Linked DNA regions of Homo sapiens: all the other regions are linked to region 1. The links come from fine-mapping of genetic effects on gene expression. A gene starts in region 1. Each other region holds a variant in brackets. All regions are shown on one strand. Distances are from middle to middle. Region 1 holds the start of TKT (transketolase). Region 2 has its middle 20 kb from the start of CACNA1D. Region 3 holds the start of LOC124909380 (a long non-coding RNA gene).

Region 1 (8,314 bases):
TCACTGTATTTTACATATCCTTTTTTTCTTTTGCAAATGGATATTTTTTGAGTTCAGTGAGCTTCCCTCTCCAAGACATTACAATGTAAACATGGTGTAACTCTCGGACACCACAGTATGTTTCCGGAGGGGTAACGGCGGTGAGGAAATCAGACTTTGCCTAACAAAGAACTAGGAGACACACTTGACATTCCACTCTTTTGGAGCACCCTACATTTGTAAATCTTATTTCTCTCCAAGTGCCTTTCAGACTGACTAATATCCACCGCGGCTGTACCTGGCCTTCCCTTTCACCTTTTTCACCATTCTCCAGCCTGGCACAGACTGCTTGCCCAAGAGGCATTCTTTTTTTTTTTTGAGAAGAAGTTTCAATTTTGTTGCCCAGGCCAGAGTGCAATGGTGCAATCTCAGCTCACCGCAACTTCTGCCTCCCGGGTTCAAGTGATTCTCCTGCCTCAGCCTCCTGAGTAGCTGGGATTACAGGCGCCCGCCACCACGTCCAGCTAATTTTTTGTATTTTTAGTAGGGACAGGGTTTCACCATGTTGGCCAAGCTGGTCTCGATCTCCTGACCTTCAGGTGATCCACTCGCCTACACCTCCCAAAGTGCTGGGATTAAAGGGATGAGTCACTGCGCCTGGCCGAAACATTATTTATTTTTGGAGACAGGGTCTTGCTAATGTTACCCAGGCTGGTCTTGAACTCCTGGCCTCAAGCGAACCTTCTGCCTTGGCCTCCCAAAGTGCTGGCATACATGTAACACCATGCCCAACTATTTTTCTTTTCTTGGCCTTTCTTTCTTTCTCTCTCTCTCTCTTTCTTTCTTTTGAGACACAGTCTCACTCTGTCACCCATGCTGCAGTGTGTGGCATGTTCAAGGCTCACTACAGCCTCAACTTCCTGGGCTCAAGTGATCCTCTGCCTCAGCCTCCCATGTAGCTGGGACTACAGGTACACATCACCACACCTAGCCAATTAAAAAAAATGTTTGGCCGGGGGCAGTGGTTCACACTCGTAATCCCAGCACTTCGGGAGGCCGAGGTGGGTGGATCACCTGAGGTCAAGAGACCAGCCTGGCCAAGATGGTGAAACCCCATCTCTACTAAAAATACAAAAATTAGCCGGTGCGGTGGCGGATGCCTGTAGTCCCAGCTACTCAGGAGGCTAGGGCAGGAGAATCAGTTGAACCTGGGAGGCAGAGGTTGCAGTGAGCCAAGATTGTGCTGCTGCACTCTAGCCTGGGCGATAGAGCAAGACTCCATCTCAAAAAAAAAATTTTTTTTTTAAGCTATGGGGTCTCACTGTGTTGCCCAGGTTGGTCTGGAACTCCTGGGCTCAAGCAATCCTCCCACCTTGGCCTCCCAAAGTGCTGTGATTACAGGCATGAACCACCATGCCCTGCCAAGAAGCATTCCTGACAGCATGAGCCCCAACCAGACAGTACGGAATGGCCACCAATTCCCAGCCTGGGCAAGTAACTTAACACACTAGCCTCAGTGTTCCCGTCTATAAAATGTGAATACAACACAATCTATCTCACAGGGTTATTCTCAGGATGCAACAAACGATGATGCTGTGTCATACCAGATACCTACTTGGCAGCTCAGGAACCCTGTAAACATCTGCATGTTTTATCTAGCCCTGAAAGATGCTCAGATGTGCAATACTACTTAGTTGGGTAATTGCTGCCTCTCTCCAGCTAGACCTCAGACCCCCTGAAACGGCCAAAGGTAGCAGGTCCAACAGTACCAAATAAGCAATACAAGGCCTGCAGAGCTACCGTGTGCCAGGCTGGTGAAAGGGGAGCTGAGAGTAAGCCAGGTCCCTGCCCAGGCAGGGGATACCCCACATAAGTGGTAAGACTGACACAAACCCAGGAGAGCTAACAGGTCCAAAGTGTGCAAGGCAGTGGGTGGGGGAAGGGCTTTGAAAGACATCTAATCCCTTCTGAGAACAGGGTGTCTTAGAGGCACAAAGGGTGAATGCGTATCCACCCAGAAAGGTGAACAGATTTACTTCTTAATAATATATCCTGAATGAAATTGGCCAGAAGCCAGAATCTTGTCTGTCTGAAACAGAGCTTGTTTGGGAAGGTCCCGAGAAATCATCCATCACGCAGCCCTCACAACCCTGTCATGAGCCCGGAGCACTGCTGGCACTGTGGCCTCAAAGCAGCCTCCAAGTAGAGCACTGGAGTCCTTGAAACCACCCAGCGTGGTTAAGTGCCATTACTGTCCCCGCTTTACAGAGCGGGAAGCAGGCTCTGAAGTAATTCACTGACTGACCCCCTCACCCACCCCACTGGACACCTCCAGCTGCATGCACGGTGGCCCTCATTAATTATCCCTGTCTCCGCTACAGAGGAGGCTCCTTGGGTGTCCACCTTCTGGGCCAAAAGGGCTGGCCAGGGAAGGATCTTGGGGCCTAGGCACGCCAGCTCCTGCCTGGGAGATACAGCACCTGGTGGCTGGCCCTGCCCCAGGACGTCACTCCCGGCGCTAGGGCCCTGGAACTCCGTCCTTCCGGCGCTCAGCCTTCTCAGTCTCCTTGCCCTCCGCCTCCTCCCGCCCCAGGTCAAATCTTAGACCTCCTTTTCACAATGGATCCCAGGGTTCTGCACCCACGTGCCACCGCCCTCCTCCCCTCTTCCCCCAATCAGCCCCGCCGCTGCCTGGCGTCTCAGCAGCCCCCTGCTCCAAACTCGGACCCAACCCAGGGGTGGCAGGAGACAGGGGTAGGGGAGCGTAGTCTGAGGTGGGGAGAAGGCCGGGCCCCCGAGTCTCCTGCAAGAGGAATTAAAAACAGGGTCTCTAGAGTCGGACTGCTGGGGCTCAAATCAGATCTCCCTGTGTGTAACTTTGGGTAGCTGACTAACTCGGAGCCTCCGTTTCCCCATCTGGAAGGGGGAACACTCCCGGCGGCGCCCACACAGCCAGGTGGTGGAGAGGGTTAAGAGGGCCGCGTTCTGTAGAACAGCAGTAATGGTGGCCTTCCCGGCATCACCCTAGAGGGTACTTGGCGAGTCGCGAGCCCATCCCCCGCGCCACCATGCAGCTGCGCGGCCGGCGATCCGCGTGGGGAAGAGCCGGCCTGAGGCGCACGGAGGACCAGAGGCCCACGCGGCCGAGCCCGGGCGTAGGGCGAGTGTGCGGCGCAGCGGAAGCCGCCTGCAGCCCGGGGCCCTGCGAGGCGCGCGTCTCCGCCCTCCGACGGCGCCCGGGCCACCTTCCTCGTCTAGGCATCTCGCAGCGCGACCCAGAGCCCGCGGCGACTCTGGCCGCCGCAGACGCCCCCCGCCCCGCCCGAGCCGCGTCCCCGGCCGGCGCCGCGCACTCACCCAGAGCCCGCCGCAGTGGTGGCCTGGATGGAGCTGATACGTAGGCGGTTGGCCGTGTCCTTCAAGGCCTGCAGCTTCTGCTGGTCAGGCTTGTGGTAGCTCTCCATGGTGCGGCAGGCGGGGACCGGGCGCACACGCGGACACACAGAGATAGCGGCTGCTCCCGCGGCGACAGGCGGCTGCCGAGGCCGGGCGCGGGGCGGGGGCGCGTTAAGTCGCCGGGCGGGGCGGGGCGGGGATGGGAGAGGCGGGGCAGGGGGAGGAGGCGGGGCTCGGATCACCCCAGGCCTTCAGCCCCGCCCCGCCTGGGGCCGCCTCCTGCCCGCTCCCCTCCCCTAGGCGCTGGGCCGCTGCGGACTGCGAGGTTAGCAGTTAACCACACACACCAATAATAATAACATAACGAACAACTCAGGATTCGAGTCTGGGCTCCTGACTCGAAAGCCTCTCAGTCTCCCTCCTCCACACAGTCCTCCGTGGACTTGTCACGGCGAATCCCATTTTAGAGATGGACAAACTGAGGCTTGGCAAGGGCAATCAAGGTCACAAGGCTGGTGGGTGCCAGGCTTGGCCCCAGCCGACCAACCCCAGGCCCAAGAGACTGCAGGACTTAATTTTGAGACTGAGTTTCGCTGTTGTTGCCCAGGCTGGAGTGCAATGGCATGATCTTGGCTCACCACAACCTCCGCCTCCTGAGTTCAAGCAATTCTCCTGCCTCAGCCTCCCTAGTAGCTGGGATTACAAGCATGCGCCACCACACCTAGCTAATTTTGTATTTTTAGTAGAGACGGGGTTTCTCCATGTTGGTCAGGCTGATCTTGAACTCCCGACCTCAGGTGATCCGCCTCGGCCTCCCAAAGTGCTGGGGTTACAGGGGTGAGCCACCGCACCAGGCCCTATTTCTTTTTTCTAATAATTAAAAAACTTGTTTTTTCTTTGAGACGGGGTCACCCATGGTCACCCAGGCTGGAATGCAGTGGAGTGATTACAGCTGCCTGAAGCCTCAGCCTCCTGGGCTCAAGTGATCCTTCTGCCTCAGCCTCAAAAGTAGCTGGGACCATAGGTACACACTACCACGCCCGGCTAATTTTTGTATGTTTTGTAGAGATGGGGTTTTGCCACTTTACCCAGGCAGGTCTTGAACTCCTAGGCTCAAGCCATCTGCCCTCCTCTGCCTCCCAAAGTGCCGGATTATAGGTATGAGCCACCATGCCCAGCCACTCAGGGCTTTAGAGCCCTGCACAGGGGATGGGGATTATTGAAAATGAGAATAGGATAGTGGTAGCCATGACAATGCCAGGTGATGATAACTGAGAAATTACTAGGGGAAGATCCTTTACAAATTATTAGGGCCTAGAAACACTACTGACTTTTAGGGAGATTATTGGGTTTGCTTCCAGGTCTGTAGGGACAGGGGCACCCACCACTACTGTTATCAGACCCCATGGTTCCCAGAGGTATGAAGCTCCCCAGAGTGGGATTAGGGAGGGGACTTTCATCACAGACACTGTTTCATTCAATCTGCCCACCACACTTGGCCAGTGAGGTACATACTGCCTACAATGCCTATTTTACAGAGGAAGAAGCTCCATTTGACAGAGGAAAGATAAAGGCAAGACCCTCAAACGGATGGCTGGGCAGGGAGCTAAAACCCTGAGAGATCCAAGAGGCACCAGTGGCCGCCCTGTGTCCTCTGTGTCCTCCCTGCATTGCCCATACTCAGAGAGCTCTGGCTCATGAGGCGATTGACTGAATTTGAGTGAGTCCCCCAGCTCGCCTCCAGGTGCTCCTCTGCTGGCCTGACCCCCAGATGCCCAATCAGACCCTAAGTATGGCATCCCATAGCACCTGGCTCCTGCTGGCCCAGCCCGCAGAGGCTGGCCCTATGGTGTCTGGCTGGTGAGGGCTATGGGCTAGGATTGGAGGGGGGCCCCACAGTGTGCCACCCTCAGATGCCTGGCAGGTGCCACCTCTGCCCTCAAGCTGCTCACTGTCTGGAAAAAGGGCAAACCCTTGAAACCCTTTGAAAGCTCTGTGCCTTCCAACTCTGTGGCCCTTAGAGCAGTGGCTCCCTAAGGGAGTGGACTCCATTTCCCCATCTGCCTAATGGGACTCATCCTTATCACTCTGGTCTCTGACAATGGCACAGAACTCACCATGGCTCTGGGGACCTAGGAGTAATGGAAAGAAAATTGTCCCCTCCCCACCACCTGGAGCTCCAGGGACCTCAGGGAGGCTCTCTCTCCTCCTGGTGTTCCACATGAATGGGGCCTGTGATACTATGATATGCATATACAGGCCCCTGGCTTAGAACTGCCCCCAACCCTTGTTATACCACTGGGGTGCTTTAGACCTCAGGAGCAGACCCCAGAAACAGAGTCTCTCAGGCCTTCTCCTACCTTCCTTTCACCTGCTCCTTTCTCTCCCCATGGCAGGATCTTCTCCTGCCGGTCTGTCTTGGAGCTGGCCATAAGTAAGTTCTCTCACCTACCTCGTGTAATTGTAGGTCATTAGACCCCCATGAGAAGGGGTTCTGTCCCATACCCATGAGGAGGGAAGACCAGAGTGGGTGCAGAGTGATAAGGATGAGTCCCGTTAGGCAGATGGGGAAATTGAGGCCACTCCCTTAGGGAGCCACTGTCCTAAGGGCCACAGAGTTGGATGGCACAGAGTTTTCAAAAGGTTTCAAGAGTCTGCCCTTTTACCAGACAGTGAGCTTCACAGAGAGGTCAAGAAGAGTCAGGACACACAGGTCTTGCGGGGTTTCCCCACTCAGTCAGTTAGTATTAGATCATATACTTTTGGTCTAATCACATTTCCACAAGGTTGTCAATCATGTCTGTCCAATGAAATGTCCATGAAAGGCTCAAGAGGACAGGGTTCAGGAGCTTCTGGACAGCGGAACACGTGGAGGCTCACAGGAAGGTGAACAAGAACTCATCCACGTGCTGGGAGGGTGGAACATTCCAGCTCCATGGAGACAATGGCTCCTTCACTAGGGACCTTTCCAGGCCTCCGCCTATGTATCTCTTTGCCTAACTGTTTCTTTGTCTCCTTTAAAATATCCTTTGTAACTAACCGATAAATGTGCTTTCCTGAGTTTTGAGAGCTGCGCTAGCAAATTAATTGAACCCAAAGAGGGAGTGGTGGGAACCCCAACTTGAAGCTGGTCAGTCCCAATCTTGCGACTCATGGGAAGGAGGAGGTGCTCTTGGGGGACTGAATCCTTAACCTGTGGTTTCTGAGGCTATCTCCAGGTAATTAGCATCAGAATGGAATAGAGTTGGAGGACACCCAGCTGGTGTTGCTGCAGAATTGGTTGCTTGCTTGGTGCATGGGGAGAAACCCCCACACATTTGATCACAGGAGTCTTTTGTGTTAATTGTTGTGGTGTGAGAACAGAGGAAAAACAGAGTTTGAGTGTTTTCCCTTTCACAGGGCCCAAGGGTTCAGCCTTATTTCAAGAGCTCTTGGTCTTCCTGAAGGTCAGCTTCAGAACCAGAATCCTAGGCTAGCTGGAGGTGTTGCTAGCACCCAGTTTGTCCAGGGTGGTTCCCTTGTCCCCAGGTCCCAGGGTCTTTATTCGAACCCTCACGCCTCAGAAGTCACATGGCACTTGGAAGAAAGCCCTGGGATCCTGTCTGGCTTCCAGCTAACATCTGGCTCCCTGCTGCCCTCACACCCCATCCTCTCTCAGCCTCCTGTTCACCCTCCCCATGGCTGCCAGAGAAGTGTTCCTCCCCAGCTTAACTCCCATGTTGTTCTTCCTCCACCCTTTGGATATAATTCAGGTCCCCCAGCCCTACCCATCTCAGCCACACTGACCTCGCATTCCTTAAAAAATACCAAGCCCACTCCCTCCTAGAGGTTTTGCACAGGCTGCTCCCTGAGCCAGCAGAGCCCTTCCTGAGGCTCCTCACATGGCCTGGATCTAGAGCCATGCTGCCCATCACACTGCCTGTCTTGGTCTCTGCAGGGCTCTCTGCCTATCTGCATGATCTTTGGTCAGCTCCCGGAGAGCCGGAATACAATCTCTTGTCCCTGGCTCTATCCGCAGGGACTACAACTGGGTCTCATATACAATAGGGGCTCAATGAATGCCTGCAGAATGAAAGCATGAATGTCAAGTGATGTGCCTGAGGACACAGAGTCAGCAAGTGCCAGGGCTGCACCCAAGCCAAGAGGGCATCAGGGAGGCCTCAGGGGAGGGAATCTGGCCATTCAGACTGGTGTCCTTCATTCCGGCCTTTCCAGAAACCGAGACACAAAGGTGCTCTGTTGGAGGGTAGGAAGTGGCAGAAATGTCCTACTGCCGGCATCAGGTGCCAGCAGAGGCCACAGTGACCTGAGAGCAGAGCCACATTCTGGAATCTGAGCTGTCCCCCAGGACCCGTGCAGCACTAGGGAGAAGGTCACCCTTAGAGGAGCCAGAACAGTGTGAGTCCCCACGTAAGAGTCCCCCACAGCCACTCCCCAGGGATCTCCAGTATCACTAAAAGGGACCTGAGGGGGGTTGGGGTCCTGAGGGGTGCCATGCCACCCAGTATTGTTCCTGGGCAATGGCTTTGATCACCAAGGCAGTGCTGATGGATTGTACTGGCTGCCTAGAGTGGAATGTGAAGCAGAGAGTTCTGAATTGCCCTTCAGCCTGAAATGCCAGGACCGGTCTAGCCATACTGGGCAGGGGCACCTTGCATAAGAGACTGGCAGTGTCAGGAAGTCATGTCCCACCTCTTCATGTCCCCTGTACTTTGGGGACCCAGAGGGGGCTGCACTTGGGCCGGGCATGACGAATCCCAGATTGCAGGAACTGTTTGGCACACACACACACTGACACTCACAGACAATGCTCACACACCCTCTCACGTTTGTTGTTGTTAAGAGATAAGGTCTCATGCTATGTTGCCCAGGCTAGTTTTGAACTCCTGGGCTCAAGTGATCCTCTTGCCTCGGCCTCCCAAAGTGTTGGGATTACAGG
Region 2 (8,314 bases), 220 kb after region 1:
CTTTTCTTCTTTATTAGTCTTGCTAGCGGTCTATCAATTCTGTTGATCTTTGCAAAAAGCCAGCTCCTAGATTCATTGATTTTTTGAATCAATTGATTGTGTCTCTATCTCTTTCAGTTCTGCTCTGATCTTAGTTATTTCTTGTCTTCTGCTAGCTTTTGAATTTGATTGCTCTTGCTTCTCTAGTTCTTTTAATTGTGATGTTAGGGTGTTGATTTTAGATCTTTCCTGCCCTCTCTTGTGAGCATTTAGTGCTATAAATTTCCCTGTACACACTGCTTTAAATGTGTCCCAGAGATTTTGGTATGTTGTGTCTTTGTTCTCATTGGTTTCAAAGAACATCTTTATTTCTGCCTTTATTTCATTATTTACCCAGTAGTCATTCAGGAGCAAGTTGTTCAGTTTCCATGTAGATGTGCATTTTTGAGTGAGTTTCTTAATCCTGAGTTCTAATTTGATTGCACTGTGGTCTGAGAGAGAGTTTGTTGTGATTTCCGTTCTTTTACATTTGCTGAGGAGTGCTTTACTTCCAATTATGTGGTCAATTTTAGAATAAGTGCGATGTGGTGCTGAGAAGAAAGTGTATTCTGTTGATTTGGGGTGAAGAGTTCTGTAGATGTCTATTAGGTCTGTTTGTTGCAGAGCTGAGTTCAGGTCTTGGATATCCCTGTTAACCTTCTGTCTCATTGATCTGTCTAATATTGACAGAGGGGTGTTAAAGTCTCCTGTTATTATTGTGTGGGAGTCTAAGTCTCTTTGTAGGTCTCTAAGGACTTGCTTTATGAATCTGGGTGCTCCTGTATTGGGTGCATATGTATTTAGGATAGTTAGCTCTTCTTGTTGAATTGATCCCTTTACCGTTATGTAATGGCCTTCTTTGTCTCTTTTCATTTTTGTTGGTTTAAAGTCTGTTTTATCAGAGACTAGGATTACAACCCCTGCTTTTTTTTGCTTTCCATTTGCTTGGTAGTTCTTCCTCCATCCCTTTATTTTGAGCCTATGTGCATCTTTGCATGTGAGATGGGTCTCCTGAATACAGCACACTGATGGGTCTTGACTCCTCATCCAATTTGCCGGTCTGTGTCTTTTAATTGGGGCATTTAGCCCATTTACATTTAAGGTTAATATTGTTGTGTGTGAATTTGATCCTGTCATTATGATGTTTGCTGGTTATTTTGCCCATTAATTGATGAGGTTTCTTCGTAGCATCGATGGTGTTTACAATTTGGCATGTTTTTGCAGTGGCTGGTACTGGTTGTTCCTTTCCATGTTTAGTGCTTCCTTCAGGAGCTCTTGTAAGGCAGGCCTGGTGGTGACAAAATCTCTCAGCATTTGCTTGTCTGTAAAGGATTTTATTTCTCCTTCACTTATGAAGCTTAGTTTGGCTGGATATGAAATTCTGGGTTGAAAATTCTTTTCTTTAAGAATGCTGAATATTGGCCCCCACTCTCTCCTGGCTGTAGGGTTTCTGCTGAGAGATCTGCTGTTAGTCTGATGGGCTTCCCTTTGTGGGTAACTCGACCTTTCTCTCTGGCTGCCCTTAACACTTTTTCCTTCATTTCAACCTTGGCGAATCTGACAATTATGTGTCTTGGGGTTGTTCTTCTGGAGGAGTATCTTTGTGGTGTTCTCTGTATTTCCTGAATTTGAATGTTTACCTGCCTTACTATGTTGGGGAAGTTCTCCTGGATAATATCCTGAATGTTTTCCAACTTGGGTCCCTTCTCCCCATCACTTTCAGGTACACCAATCAAACATAGACTTGGTCTTTTCACATAGTCCCATATTTCTTGGAGGCTTTGTTCGTTTCTTTTTACTCTTTTTTCTCTAAACTTCTCTTCTTGCTTCATTTCATTCATTTGATCTTCAATCACTGATACCCTTTCTTCCACTTGATCGAATCGGCTATTGAAGCTTGTGCATGTGTCACAAAGTTCTTGTGCCATGGTTTTCAGCTCCATCAAGTCATTTAAGGTCTTCTCTACACCCTTTTTCTAGTTAGCCATTCATCTAATTGTTTTTCAAGGTTTTTAGCTCCCTTGTGATGGGTTCAAACCTCCTCCTTCAGCTTGGAGAAGTTTGTTACTACTGACTTGCTGAAGCCTACTTCTGTCAACTCGTCAAAGTCATTCTTTATCCAGCTTTGTTCCATTGCTGGTGAGGAGCTGCAGTCCTTTGGAGGAGAACAGGCACTCTGGTTTTTAGAATTTTCAGCTTTTCTGCTCCAGTTTCTCCCCATCTTTGTGGTTTTATCTACCGTTGGTCTTTGATGTTGGTGACCTACAGATGGGGTTTTGGTATAGATGTCCTTTTTGTTGATGTTGATGCTGTTTCTTTCTGTTGGTTAGTTTTCCTTCTAACAGTCAGGTCCCTCAGCTGCAGGTCTGTTGGAGTTTGCTGGAGTTCCACTCCAGACCCTGCATGCCTGGGTATCACCAGTGGAGGCTGCAGAACAGCAAATATTGCTGCCTGATCCTTCCTCTGGAAGCTTCATCCCAGAGGGACAGCCACCTATATGAGGTGTCTGTTGGCCCCTACTGGGAGGTGTCTCCCAGTTAGGCTACACAGGGGTCAGGGACCCACTTGAGGAGGCAGTCTGTCTGTTCTCAGAGCTAAAACACTGTGCTGGTGAGAGAGAACCACTGCTCTCTTCTGAGCTGTCAGACAGGGATATTTAAGTCTGCAGAAGTTGTCTGCTGCCTTTTGTTCAGCTATGCCCTGCCCACAGAGGTGGAGTCTAGAGCCAGTAGGCCTGATTGAGCTGTGGTGGACCCCACTCAGTTCAAGCTTCCTGGCCACTTTGTTTACCTACTGGCCTCAGCAATGGCAGACGCCCCTCCCCCAGCCAGGCTGCTGCCTCACAGTTTGATCTCAGATTGCTGGGCTAGCAGTGAGCAAGGCTCCATGGGTGGCAGCCACCGAGCCAGGCAAGGAAGAGAATCACCTTGTCTGCTGGTTCCTAAGACCTTGGGAAAAGTCCACAGTCTTTGGGTGGGAGTGTCCCATTTTTCCAAGTAGTGTGTCACAGCGTCTCTTGGCTAGGAAAGGGAAATCCCTGACCCCTTGTGCTTCCCAGGTGAGGCGATGCCTGCCCTGCTTCAGCTTGTCCTCCATGGGCTGCACCCACTGTCCAACCAGTCCCAATGAGATGAACCAGGTACCTCAGTTGGAAACGTAGAAATCACC[C/T]ATCTTCTGTGTCGATCACGCTGGGAGTTGCAGACTGAAGCTGTTCCTATTCGGCCATCTTGGAAAGTCTCATAATACTTTCATTTTTAAAAAACATACAGGGTATTAAAAATTTCAATATGATTTTAGGTCAGTTTTAGTAAGTTTGTTCTTTTAGAAATTTGTTTCCTTTAATCTAAGGTGTTAATTTTTTGCCATAATACACTTCATACTATTTCAGTGTTAGCCTTTTAATATTTGTAGGATCTATCCTTTCTTTCATTTGTAGTAGTAACAGCTTTTGTTTTCCTTTCTTCTTGATCATCCTAACCAGGAGTTTACTGATTCCATTAAATGTTTCAAAAACCAACGTTTGGATTTGTTATTTTTGTATACTCTTTGTTTTCTAGTTTCTTGATTTCTGCTTTATATTTATGATTTCTCTCCGTTCACAGATTTTGGGTTTAATTTGCTCTTCTTTTTTTAACTTCTTAAAATAGAAACTTAAAATAATTGATTTTAAATCTTTCTTCTTTCCTAATATAAGCAATAGACACTAAAAATTTCCCTCTAGGCACTGCAGTGCTGCATCCCATAAAATTTGATATGTTTTAATTTCATTCAGTTCAAAAATATTTTCTAATTTCCCTGTGATTTCTTTTTTTTATTTAATAAAGTTTTGTTTTTCCAAATGTACAGTCAGTTGGACCTGTTCATGCATCTTCACCAGCAGTTGTGGCATCTCCACTTTTGGTATTTCTGGTGTAAATGACTCGAGCTCTGTGTTTTGAAACCAGTTTGATAAGTCCTTTGCCAAGGAGCTCCTGTAGGGCTGCCCTGGCCAGGGAGCCTCGAATCTCCAATCTCTGAGAGACCACAGCTGGGGTTATAAACCTATAGCTGGAAACTTCCTTACAGAGTTTGTCATACAAAGCTTCCTTACAGTAGCATTGTCAAACAAGACTTGGTTATTGAGCTTATCCCAAATTTTGCCTTTGGACCACTCCTTTTTGGCTTTGCCCCTGGATTTGTTCACTGGGTTTTTGTCTTTTTTGGCCAACTTCCCGGGGTCTTTCCTCTTGTTGTCCTCGGATGGCATTGTGAAGCTTGCAGAGCAGCGGCAATCGCTGCAGCCTTGCTGAGATGTCAGACGAAAAGTGATTTCTTTGATGCACAGGTTATTTGAAAATGTGTTGTTTAATTTTCAAATATTTGGGGGGCTGTAATAGATATCTTTTTGTTATTGATTTCTAATTTAATTTCAGCGTGGTTAGAAAACAATGTATATTCTGTGGTTGTTGAGTTTAGTGTTCTATTTTATTTATTTATTTGTTCTAGTTTTTTTAGAGACAGTCTTGCTCTGTCACTCAGGCTGGAGTGCAGTGGTGTGCTCAGCCTCCCAAATAGATGGGACTACAGGTATGTTCCACTATGCCCAGCTAATTTTTTAATAGAGATGGGGTCTTGATATGTTGCCCATGCTGGTCTCCAGCTCCTGGCCTTAAGTGATCCTCCTACCTTGGCCTCTGAAAACTCTGGGATTATAGGCATGAGCCACCACATCTGGCCTAGTGTTCTATAAATGTCAATTAGGTTAAGGTGATTGATAGCATTGTTGAGATATTCTACATCATTTTTGATTTTTAATAATCTAGTTGTTTTGTCAATTACTGAGAGAGGGGTGTTAACATCTCTAACTATGATTGTGGATTTGTTTATTTCTCCCTTTAGCTCTTTCAGTTTTTGCTTTATGCATTTTGAAGCTGTTATTAAACACACATTTATAATTGCTATGCCTTTTGATGAAATGACCCTTTTATCATTACGAAATATTGTTCTTTATTTTTGGTAATCTTTCTTATCCTGAAGTCTATTTTGACTGATATTAATCTAGCCATTCCATATTTCCTATGATTAGTGCTTGCATGATATTTCTTTTAAAATTTTTAAGTTTTAAACCTATATGTGTCTTTGTATTTAATGTATCTCTTGTAGATAACATATAGTTGGATCATAACTTTTATCTACTATAAACAATCTATTTCTTTTTCTTATAGCATTTAGTCAATCTACATTTAAGATAATTATTGATATGGTTGGATTTAGTTCTCTCACTTTTATTTGTTTTCTATTTTTCTGATATGACTTGTTTCTTGGTTCCACTTTTCTTGCCTTTTTTGGGAATTAATATGGTTTAGTATTTCATTTTAATTTTTAGCTATAGCTCTTTGCATATTTTTAGTGGTTACTTTTGGGGTTAAAATAATTTTTTTTAATATTTTAAGTTCTAGGGTACATGTGCAGAACGTGCAGGTTTGTTACATAGGTATACACATGCCATGTTGGTTTGCTGCACCCATCAACCTGTCATCTACATTAGGTATTTCTCCTAATGCTATCCCTCCCTGAGCCCCCCACTCCCTGGCAGGCCCCGGTATGTGATCCCCTTCCCCCTGTGTCCATGTGTTCTCATTGTTCAACTCCCACTTATGAGTGAGAACATGCGGTGTTTGGTTTTCTGTTCCTGTGTTAGTTTGCTGAGAATGATGGTTTCCAGCTCCATCCATGTCCCTGCAAAGGACATCCTTTTTTATGGCTGCATAGTATTCCATGGTGTATATGTGCCACATTTTCTTTATCCAGTTTATCATTGATGGGGATTTGGGTTGGTTCCAAGTCTTTATGTTCTATTATGAACAGTGCTGCAATAAACATGTGTGCATGTGTATTTGTAGTAGAATAATTTATAATCCTTTGGATATATACCCGGTAATGGGATTGCTGGGTCAAATGGTATTTCTAGTTCTAGATCCTTGAGGAATCACCACACTGTCTTCCACAATGGTTGAACTAATTTTCACTCCCACCAACAGTGTAAAAGCATTCGTATTTCTCCACATCCTCTCCAGCACCTGTTGCTTCCTGACTTTTTAATGATCGCCATTGTAACTGGCCGTGAGATGGTATCTCATTGTGGTTTTGATTTGCATTTCTCTAATGACCAGTGATGATGAGCTTTTTTCCATATGTTTGTTGGCTGCATAAATGTCTTCTTTTGAGAAGTGTCTGTTCATATCCTTCACCCACTTTTTGATGGGGTTGTTTGTTTTTGTCTTTTAAATTTGTTTAAGTTCTTTATAGATTCTGGATGTTAGCCCTTTGTCAGATGGGTAGATTGCAAAAATTTTCTCCCATTCTGTAGGTTACCTGTTTACTCTGATGACAGTTTCTTTTGCTGTGCAGAAGCTCTTGAGTTTGATTAGATCCCATTTGTCAATTTTGGCTTTTGTTGCCATTGCTTTTGTTGTTTTAGTCATGAAGTCTTTGCCCATGCCTATGTCCTGAATGGTATTGTCTAGGTTTTCTTCTAGGGTTTTTATGGTTTTAGGTCTTATGTTTAAGTCTTTAATCCATCTTGAGTTAATTTTTTTATAAGGTGTAAGGAAGGGGTCCAGTGTCAGCTTTCTGCATATGGCTAGCCAGTTTTCCCAACACCATTTATTAAATAGGGAATCCTTTTTATTGCCCTCTATATTGCTTGGGGAAATGCCCTCTATATTTTTTTTAGTGATTTGTAGATTCTACTGAAAGAAAAATGAAAACTTGTTCACAGGCAGTGTTGAAAGGATAGCTTTCAACTTTTTAAAGGGTTGAAAATTTAAACTACTCTCCATAGTTTCCGGAAAACATCCTCAAGCCTTTACAATTGAGGGTGAGGGCTGTGGCAGCTTTAAAGTTCAAGAGAAGGAAAATACGTTAATTTTCAAAGTTTTCTCCTATTTCAGATCTTTCTGAGGAAAATAATGTGAGGCCAGGTGTGGTGGCTTATACCTGTAATCCTAATACTTTGGGAGGCCCAGGCAGGAGGACCACTTGAGGCCAGGAGTCCAAGACCAGCCTGGGCAATATAAGGAGACCCTGTCTCTACAAAAAAAAAAACACACACAAAAAATACTGGGAGTGGTAGTGTGTGGCTGGAGTCCTAGCTACATGGGAGGCTGAGGTGGGAGGATCACTTGAGCCTGGGAGTTTGAGGTTGCAGTGAGCTATGATTTTGCCACTGCACTCCAGCCTGGGCAACAGAATGAGACCCTGTCTCAAAAAAAAAAAAAAAAAAAAAAAAAAGAAAAGAAAAGAAAAAAGAAAAATAATGGGAAAGAATCCCTTCACATATCCAGTGGCAGATCTGACCTGCCAGAGCCCTGTTCATCTTGACAATGAGTCAGGTGATCTGGGTTCATGGCCACACTGCATGACGTCTGTTCAGAGCAGCACCCAGGGGTTCTCTTCCTTAGCCAGTAGCTTTCTCAGCTTTCTCATGGACCTAGGAACTCCCCAGTGCCTAGATGCAGTGGAGCACATAGATAGCCTTGTGTTGTCTGGAAATGTCTGTGTTTCTGTGTAGTCTCTGCCAGTCCAATCCCAGGATGGAGGGTGGATGTGGGAACCTCTGTTTTTTAATTAGCCTTTAGGGCATAGTCTGCTCTCCACACACTTGTCAGAACAAAGGGATCTTTTTTCTTCAGGGAATAGCATTAAGAAGCAGGAGGTGGAGTAGTATACTTGTCCTGTTTGAAATGGCTTTTATCTGCTGTTGCATCAGTGATCTTTGACAGCTGATCTGCAGTTCTGGCTTAACCATTTACTAGTTGCATAACCTTGGCAAACTCACATCCCAGCATAATGAATCTAGTTTACTCCTTTATGAACTGGAAGTGTTAATATTTTCCCTGACCTACCTCAGAGGCTTAAAGGGTTGCATGGAGATGAAAACCCATTATAAAAATAAATTATTACTATGAAGGGTTAGAGAAGTTTGTCTTAAGAAGAAGGGTAATTTTAAAAAAGAAGTCTTTGTTGCCCCCTGAGTGAGCACAGTTCTTGGGGTAGAAACGGGATATAGGACAATCTGGCACTGAGTCTGCTGAAGGCTGTCCTGCCACTGCTACATCTTGCCCTTCTCTCCTAACCTCACTGCCCCAGGGGTGGAGACAGTCATGACACTGGGCAGGCCAGCCCTCCTCTGTGCTGCTGGCCACCTATGCGGCACAGTCTTGTCAGAGAGCTGACAATCAGCTCCCTGCTGCTTTCTCATCTTTTAAAGTCCAATTAAACATCTCTGGCCACAGCATGATAATTGTCTGGGCTC
Region 3 (8,314 bases), 70 kb after region 1:
AGAGTTAATGAAAATATTATTGATACACACAGCAAGTGAACGGCTTCATTTTAATGAATGAAGATCATGAACAAGAATTTTTTTTCCTACCCTGTTTACAAAGGGCTTCTCAGGCAGGGAAAAACCTCTAATTACACTAAAACTGCTCTAAATCTATGGAGCCCGTGTATGGCCATGTGTCCCACAAGTGGTGCACTACCTGAAGGAAGTCCAGGCTCACTAGTCTCTGAGCCTTCAACCAGCTGGGAAGAGTTTCCCATGTTTGTTTGTTTGTTTGCTTTTTTTTTTTTTTTTGAGAGATGGAGTCTCACTGTCACCCAGGCTGGAGTGCAGTGGCACGATCTTGGCTCATTGCAAGCTCTGCCTCCCGTGTTCACGCCATTCTCCTCAGCCGCCCGAGTAGCTGGGATTACAGGCGCCCGGGGATTACAGGCGCCCGTCACCACACCCGGCTAACTTTTTGTATTTTTAGTAGAGATGGGGTTTAACCATGTTAGCCAGTATGGTCTCGATCTCCTGACCTCGTGATCCGCCCACCTCGGCCTCCCAAAGTGCTGGGATTACAGGCGTGAGCCACCGCGCCCGGCCGAGTTTCCCATGTTTGGAATCCATTTTCACAGTGCCTCTTTTCTTCACAGAGTTGAGTGCTCCAAACAGAATCAAACTCCAATGAATAACAAGTAATTTTGGAATGTTTTACATCATGGTAAGTCAACAAATTCACTCAGCTTTAACATCTCAATGGAAGGAGCACAGAAGCAGCCTTGTTACAGAGATAATTATTAAGCATTATCTACTGCAGGTTCTTAGTTACGCTCTTAGCGGCTAAGGCTTGCTCTAACTACAGTAAATCAGATCAGGGCTTTAAAAAGACTCCATATATGGCAATTACATAGGACTACCTTTCTTGAAATATGCTTCTTCCAAGCTTGGCTAATGAACACCCCAAACACTGAAGTCCAAATACAAAAATTCGTTTTCCTTCAATAAGCTATATTAATCTGGACATACCAAAACAATACACAGTGATAAGAAAAGTTTATGATATGCGGCCGGGTGCAGTGGCTCATGCCTGTAATCCCAGAATTTTGGGAGGCTGAGGTGGGTGGATCACCTGAGGTGAGGAGACCAGCCTGGCCAACATGGTGAAATCCCGTCTCTACTAAAAATACAAAAATTAGCTGGGCGTGGTGATGCATGTTTATAATCCCAGCTACTCGGGAGGCTAAGGAAGGGGAATTGCTTAAACCCGGGAGGCAGAGGTTGCAGTGAGCCGAGATCGCACCACTGCACTCCAGTCTGGGTGACAGAACAAGACTCTGTCTCAAAAAAAAAAAAAAAAAAAAAGTTTATGATATGCAACACATCAGGCTTAGAGAGGAACACACAATTTTTTCTGTGCTAAACAGAAGCAATTAAGTGTATTTTCACAGGGACTTCTAAACCGAACTCTTAGGAAAGAACTACTTATCAATAATCAAAGTAAGTCCATCAAAGCTGTCAACTTATTTTGAAAAACCTTCATTTAAGATGTCCTCTTTTCCTTTGAAAAAATACAATATAATTTAGAAATAAGACACATGCCTTCTGCTTTTGTATATTATCAAACTGCCTAAAAAGAGCCAAACACTTTCAAAGGCATGTTTGCAGAAGAAATAAAGATAAGAAAGCCATAATGATAGCTTAATGGGTAAGGGATAAGAGTCACACTCGATTCTGCCAAAAGCAGACCTGTAGAGGTTCAGACACGCATCCAAGAATCAGCTCTGTCTGCCAACATATCAAACGGTCAGTGCGTGCAACTGGCAAGAAAGCCCAGGGAGCTGCCACGGAGCCTGTCACTGTCACTCATGAGGAAAGACAGACAAGTTCACCAGATAGCTAAAACTGCAGAGGACCTCCCCTTTAAACCAAAGCTAAGCATTCTTCCCTCTAGAGAACTTACACTCTAAGGCCCAACACATTCTGCCAACAATTCACTTGCTGAAATAAATTTCTCTGATTAACTATCCTACAGAGAATTCAGGCTTTTGGCAATACAGTATTGCCTTGCTATGGCAAATGATGGCACACTGTTTTACAAATGGCCTTTCTCAAGATGAAAGAAACTACTTACTTAATGGATACCTACCACACATTGTGACTGCTAACAGCTATCCTAAGTCAGTCATGTTGCATAGGATAGACAAGTCATTGAAAAGTTGGCTGGGTGTGGTGGCTCATGCCTCTAATCCCAACACTTTGGGAGGCTGAGGCAGGAGGTTCACTTGAGCCCAGGAGTTCAAGACCAGCCTGGGCAACACAGTGGGACCTTGTTTATTTTTTAAAAATTTGTTAACTAAAAAAAAAAAAGAAAAAAGTTAGGAGGTGTGATAGGACATTTCATTGCCTTCCACAAAAAATATCCAGATCCATCTAAGAATATCAAACATTAAATGTTTCCTTTGCTTTTCAAATGAAGGCCCCTTTCTTTTGAAAATGTAAAAAAAAATACAAATTACAAAAATTAAAGGTATTTGAACTATTTTGTATTGAGAAATTTTAAGAAGTGGAGTTTTGAGTAAGAGTTTTCTATTTCCTTAGACCCGTTTAAAGATATAGCAACCTATTATGATTTCATATAAAATATTTCACTGTTTCTCATCTTGAGAGAGGTACATGGCTCACACAAGATCAAGAAAAGCCAAATTAATTTGGTATCTTCGTAAAATCCCTTGAGACTTCTAGAGATGCTGTGAAATGTCACAGAAACAGAGCTGGGAATCACTCTCATACATATGTTGTCTTTGTGATTCATTTATTATTTAGATCTAACCTACTTTCTAGAAGGATCTGAGGAGGCTGGAGATTTTCTCAGTATGGTGCCAAGCAAAAAGGTGGTTTAATAAAAAGCTTTTTGGTGGTGATGTTAAGAGTTATAAAATTTCTTTTTCCTGAAACTCTGTGCTTGAGAAAATAAATAAAGAGAAAAAAAGTTATGCAATTTCTAAAGATGATACTGACAAAGATCTCTTACACCAGGAAACAAAAACAAGAAAACGGGCTTTGGGTATAGACAAATACATTTTTTATATAGAAAAATGGAATAGGTATATAAACATAAGTCAGGCCTGGCAAGTGAAAAGGCAAATACCTCTGCCTCAGCAGATCATTTCCTTTAAGACAAGAATAAGCATGGAGGCTCTCTAAGAACATCAAAGGGTTAGGAAAGAGTGAGAAGACAAGAAAGGCTCTAGGATAGAGGGGCAGAAAACACACACACAGGAAAAAGGATATGGAGCCTAAGACTGACTGACGTGGGATCATAACAGATTTTGGCATGTTACAAACACTTAGGTAGATGAGATGTTGTATATCCGCAAGAAACTCTGGAAAATGTCATTCAATTATCTTTGCAGCTTAACCCTTTTGGCCAAAAAACCCACTCATTTCAGACCACCACTGAACACTAATATGGTAGAGAAAGAGTCCAACTTCTAAAATTTAAATTGTAATATCTACTTATTGAATATTGAACAATGATTAAAAGACTTAGGACAGGTAATTTTAAAATGCTACTCTTCAAGGTCTTCAGTTTATCATTTAAAAATTTGGTGCCTCTGTCTAAATTAAATCAAATCTGAATATATTAACCCGAAATACTCCTTCCACAATCCCATTAACATTATAATCTCAGTACAGAATTTAGACACATGAAATGACCATTGAACTTCTTTAGGAATTAGGAAAATAAACCCAACAATATCACAACTGATTACTCCCACTTGCAAAAGTTTTATTCTTAAACAATGGGCAACCCTAAGTAAAACAGTGAATTGCACTAGGGTTTTGCCTTTGCTGTTAGGATGTATATCTGCTACTGCCACACAGTACCCATAGCTCCTTAAAATACAGCTTCCAAAGTGTGGTGTAAATCAGGGGTCCCCAACCTCAGGGTCACGGATTGGTACTGGTCTGTGGCCTGTTAGGAACCAGGCTGCACAGCAGAAGGTGAGTGGCAGACAACAGAGCATTACTGCCTGAGCTCTGCTTCTTGTCAGATCAGCTGTGGCAATAGATTCTCATAGGAGCTCCAGCCCTACTGTGAACTGCACATACGAGGGATCTAGATTGTGGCTCCTTATGAGAATCTAATGCCTGATGATCTGTCATTGTCTTCCATCACCTCCAGATGGAACTGCTGTTTAGATGCAGGAAAACAAGCTCCAGGCTCCCACTGATTCTACATGATGGTGAGTTGCATAATTATTTCATTATTTATTACAACACCTATAGAAATAAAGTACACAATAAATGTAATGTGTTTGAATCATCCTGAAACAATCCCCCAATCCCCGTCCATTGAAAAATGGTCTTCCACAAAGCCGGTCCCTGGTGCCAAAAAGGTTGGGGAATGCTGGTGTAAATGATTACGGTTCTGCCAAATGTTGGACATGTCCAACCCCCCCCCCCCAA[C/A]TGGTATTCTAGTCGCTCTAGTATCCCACACAAATATCATCTTTATGTATCATAAGGGAGAGACAAAGGCAGGGGGAAGCATGGCCCCTGACCTCCATGGATTTGAATTCCCATTTCCTAGGCTTCCAAAAATCTATAGTTAGGGATCTGGGAAATAGGTCAGATGGGGTGTAAAAAAGGGGGGGAACTTCTTTTCTCTACTTTCCCTAACTTCTACTCTCCTACACATTTTTCTACCAATTTACTAATCGATCATCCACAGCAGGGTTGTAAGCACAAATACCTCACGGACTATAAGAGACCTCAGGGTGTGGTGAGATCAGTGATGAAAATGTCTTACCTACAATTCTGGCTGACTGCAGTACTTGCAGGAATCCAAGTGCTGTGTGGTCACACACGTCATTTTATCACAAGAAAAATCAGAAATCCAGGTTAAGGATGTATAAAATATGGTAATTTTTAAATGTTGGTAGCAAATGCTTAGCCTGTGCTTTCCTTTTATTAAAAAGAAAAAGCTGGCCGGGTGCGGTGGCTCACGCTTGTAATCCCAGCACTTTGGGAGGCCAAGGTGGGTGGATCACTTGAGGCCAGGAGTTCAAGACCAGCCTGGCCAACATAGTAAAACCCCATCTCTACTAAAAATACAAAAAATTAGCCAGGCATGGTGGCATGTGCCTGTAATCCCAGCTACTGGTGAGGCCGAGGCAGAAGAATTGCTTGAGCCTGGGAGGCAGAGGTTGCGGTGAGCTGAGATTGTGCCAGTGCACTCCAGTCTGGGCAACAGAGCAAGATTCCACCTCAAAAAAACAAAACAAAACAACAACAAAAAAACAACAACAACAAAAACAAAGGCCGGGCGTGGTGGCTCACGTCTGTAATCCCAGCACTTTGGGAGGCCGAGGCAGGTGGATCACCTGAAGTCAGGAGTTCAAGACCAGCCTGGCCAACATGGTGAAATCCCATTTCTACTAACAATACAAAAATTAGCCGGGCATGGTGGCGTGTGCCTGTAATCCCAGCTCAGGAGGCTGAGGCAGAAGAATCACTTGAACCTGGGTGGTGGAGGTTGCAGTGAGCCGAGATTGCGCCACTGTACTCCAGCCTGGGTGACAAGAGCAAAACTCCGTCTCAGGAAAAAAAAAAAAGAAAAGAAAAAGCAGAAGCTGAGCATGCCTGGAAGCAGTGACTTTGTAAGTGACTCAGACCTGCCTGGATCCTCCAGCACACTGAACCTGAAGGGCCCAGTCTGGAGGTTTATTCTGCACACTCCAGAGGAGCTTCGCTTAGACTAGCGGTTACTCTGTTTCAATTTTTACCTACACAGATAACTTCATTGTGTAAACAGAAGGTGAAAACCTACATATTACATGTTAACATATTTCTGTCACTTAAGTACAAACAATGATTTCCTTTGTGAGTTCTCAAAAGAAAAAACATTTGAAGTATTGAATATTTAACATAATTATCTAAAAGATAAATGATACAGGCATGGTTAACTTTACAAATCTTTACAATTTAGATAACACCACAATAAAAAAAAAAAGATAAAAAGTGCTTTTATCTGACAACACTACCTGAGGAGGAAAAAGCCAGTAATTAGTGAATCATAATGAAAAGAATCTGCTTTGGAAATTCTGAAATGTTCATGGATTTACAAAGTTACCAAGAAGGCACTTGGTAAAGGCTCTACCAGAATACTAAGCAGCGCCTACAATGAGCCAGAAAGCAATATATGTATTTTTAAAACATTTGAACTAACAGTGTCACTGAGTCAGACTCAGCCACTGAGCCTTAAGTCCCTCTATGTTTTCGTGGTGATTTTACCTCTTCAATCTACAAATGTGGCAACAGCAAGGCTCTTTCCTTATCTTGGTCCAGAAGGCCAGACTAATGCAGTTGCCACAGACCCTTTCTCCTTCACTGATTACAGAATCATACCAAGCACAGCGGTGCCGCAACTGATGGTGGAAGACTGCCTTTCTTCAGGCTAAGAAAGAAGTACTGCACTGAATTCAAAGATATCAAAGAATGAATCACGGAAATTTTCTTGTTGTTTATGAATTCCTCTTTCAGTGTGGAGGGAGAACTCACATTTTTGGATTGGACAAATTGTAAACTTATCTTGTAAGGAAATTTCTTGCGCTGTGCTTTAAAAGTCTGAAGATTTGCTCCAAATGCCAACAGCCACCTACCATCTCTACTGTTCTGAGACTTGCCCTTGAACTGAGAAAGGACAAGCAGAGAGACAAAAAAAGCACACACTACAGCATTTCTTCTACTAAAACTTTCCATTTGGCAGTGGCATTTTCAACACTATGGAAATGAACCTCCCTACTTTTTCTAGTGATCTAATTTTCATTAAAAGCACTATGTATCAAGAGATCGATGCCCGATATAAAGGAAAAGTGATAAGTGAAGCAGAAACGAAGGGGTACTTCTCTCTGGCTTTTGGAGGTAAGTTCTTAAAAATATTAAATAGCAATAATATTTAACATTTTAAATTATACTTAAGAGGTAATTGTCTTTTTCGGTTAAGCAAGCTAAAGAGCAACATATTAGACTAGTAGATATATGACATTAACTCCTTTTTAAGAAAATTTCAGATCAGATTTTACTCACATAGGATCACTTTGAAAGTGTTTCATACAAACCACAAACTTGTAATTGTTTAAACCTGTCAAGGTAAAATAAAATTCGGGAAATGTCTGTGTTCTTTTGAAAAACTCAAAAGGGCTTTGTCCATTTTCCCAAAACTGCTTTTGGTTTTACAGAAAACATTAAAAAATACAAAAAGTGGCATTAAGTGGGAGATACATGCCTTAGGGTGTTACATGAAGGAAACATGAAAAAGTTGTCCTTATAAATGATAAACTTCCAGTAAAAAGATGCCGTATCTAACATGCACATAAAGTAAAACAATCATTGTTTTTGGTTAAAACTACCATTACACACTGGTCTATGGTGAGAATAAGGTTAGGTCTGAGAAGAGAAAATCAAGACCATATACTCTTTCCCAACAATGGGTGAGTACTGCTGCTGAAAATGACCAAGAAAAAATATGTACATACCCTTACTGTCTCTCTGGTAGATCAGACTGTCACTGTTACTAGCCCAGTCATTCAAATTTACAAGCAATAACTCTCAAATCACAGACCTTAAATCATTAATTTTTATCATTAATCTACAGGGAGTTGTTTTAAGAATAAACATGCATAGCTTTGGGCTTACTGTAGTAGCACATTTCATTAAGAATCCTGACCCAGCGGGGTGCAGTGGCTATAGTGTAATCCTAGCACTTTGGGAGGCTGAGGTGGGAAGATCGCTTGAGGCCAGGAGTTGGAGACCAGGTTGGTCAACACAGCAAGACCCTATCACTACAAAAAATTTGCAGAGACCCTATCTCTATTTAAAAGAAAAAAATTTAGCTGGTGTAGTAGCTCACACCTATAGTCCTAGCTACTCAGGGCAGTGGCTGAGGATGGAGGATCATTTGGACACTATAGCCTGGGCAACAGAGTGAGACCTTGTCTCAGAAAAAAAAAAAAAAGAATCTTCACCCTTACCAAGAAGGCAGAGTTTTGACATAGAAAGTTCTAACGCAGTTTAGTAACTTCAGCTTATAATTTTCTAAGAAAATATAATAGAACCTAAGGACTAAAAATATAAACAAAATTCTTTATAAGCGCACAGTAGTTTTAATCTATATGGTATAGCAGCTGGTAAAGTGCTTGGCAAATGACATATTCAATAAATGTCACTGAATTAAGGTATGTATCCGAGTTAATCACGTTGGTTAAAAACAAGGTAAAACACAATATATACACATATATATATATTTTTTTTTTTTTTGAGATGGAGT

What was found. PIP is the estimated chance that this variant, and not a neighbour inherited with it, causes the effect.
Region 2: its variant is the best candidate, but not a certain one, in a credible set for the expression of TKT in whole blood (INTERVAL, PIP 0.79).
Region 3: its variant is the best candidate, but not a certain one, in a credible set for the expression of TKT in whole blood (TOPMed, PIP 0.51).

What each region holds. Positions count from the first base shown.
Region 1 is chr3:53,252,500-53,260,813 of GRCh38, forward strand. TKT (transketolase) reads right to left here and starts at 3,523. Exons shown (of 14, transcript NM_001064.4): 1 at 3,337-3,523. The coding sequence starts at 3,443. RefSeq lists silencers at 3,120-3,809, 6,074-6,368 and an enhancer at 6,074-6,368.
Region 2 is chr3:53,470,826-53,479,139 of GRCh38, forward strand. It overlaps the pseudogene RPS25P4. Among named protein-coding and RNA genes, the nearest start is that of CACNA1D, 20 kb to the right of the region's middle. RefSeq lists an enhancer at 2,392-2,895 and a silencer at 7,997-8,291. The variant C/T (reference allele first, on the strand shown) is at 3,187.
Region 3 is chr3:53,322,536-53,330,849 of GRCh38, forward strand. All of the region lies in intron 3 of DCP1A (decapping mRNA 1A), which reads right to left. It overlaps LOC124909380 (a long non-coding RNA gene), which reads left to right and starts at 630. Exons shown (of 2, transcript XR_007095912.1): 1 at 630-706; 2 at 4,172-4,299. The variant C/A (reference allele first, on the strand shown) is at 4,456.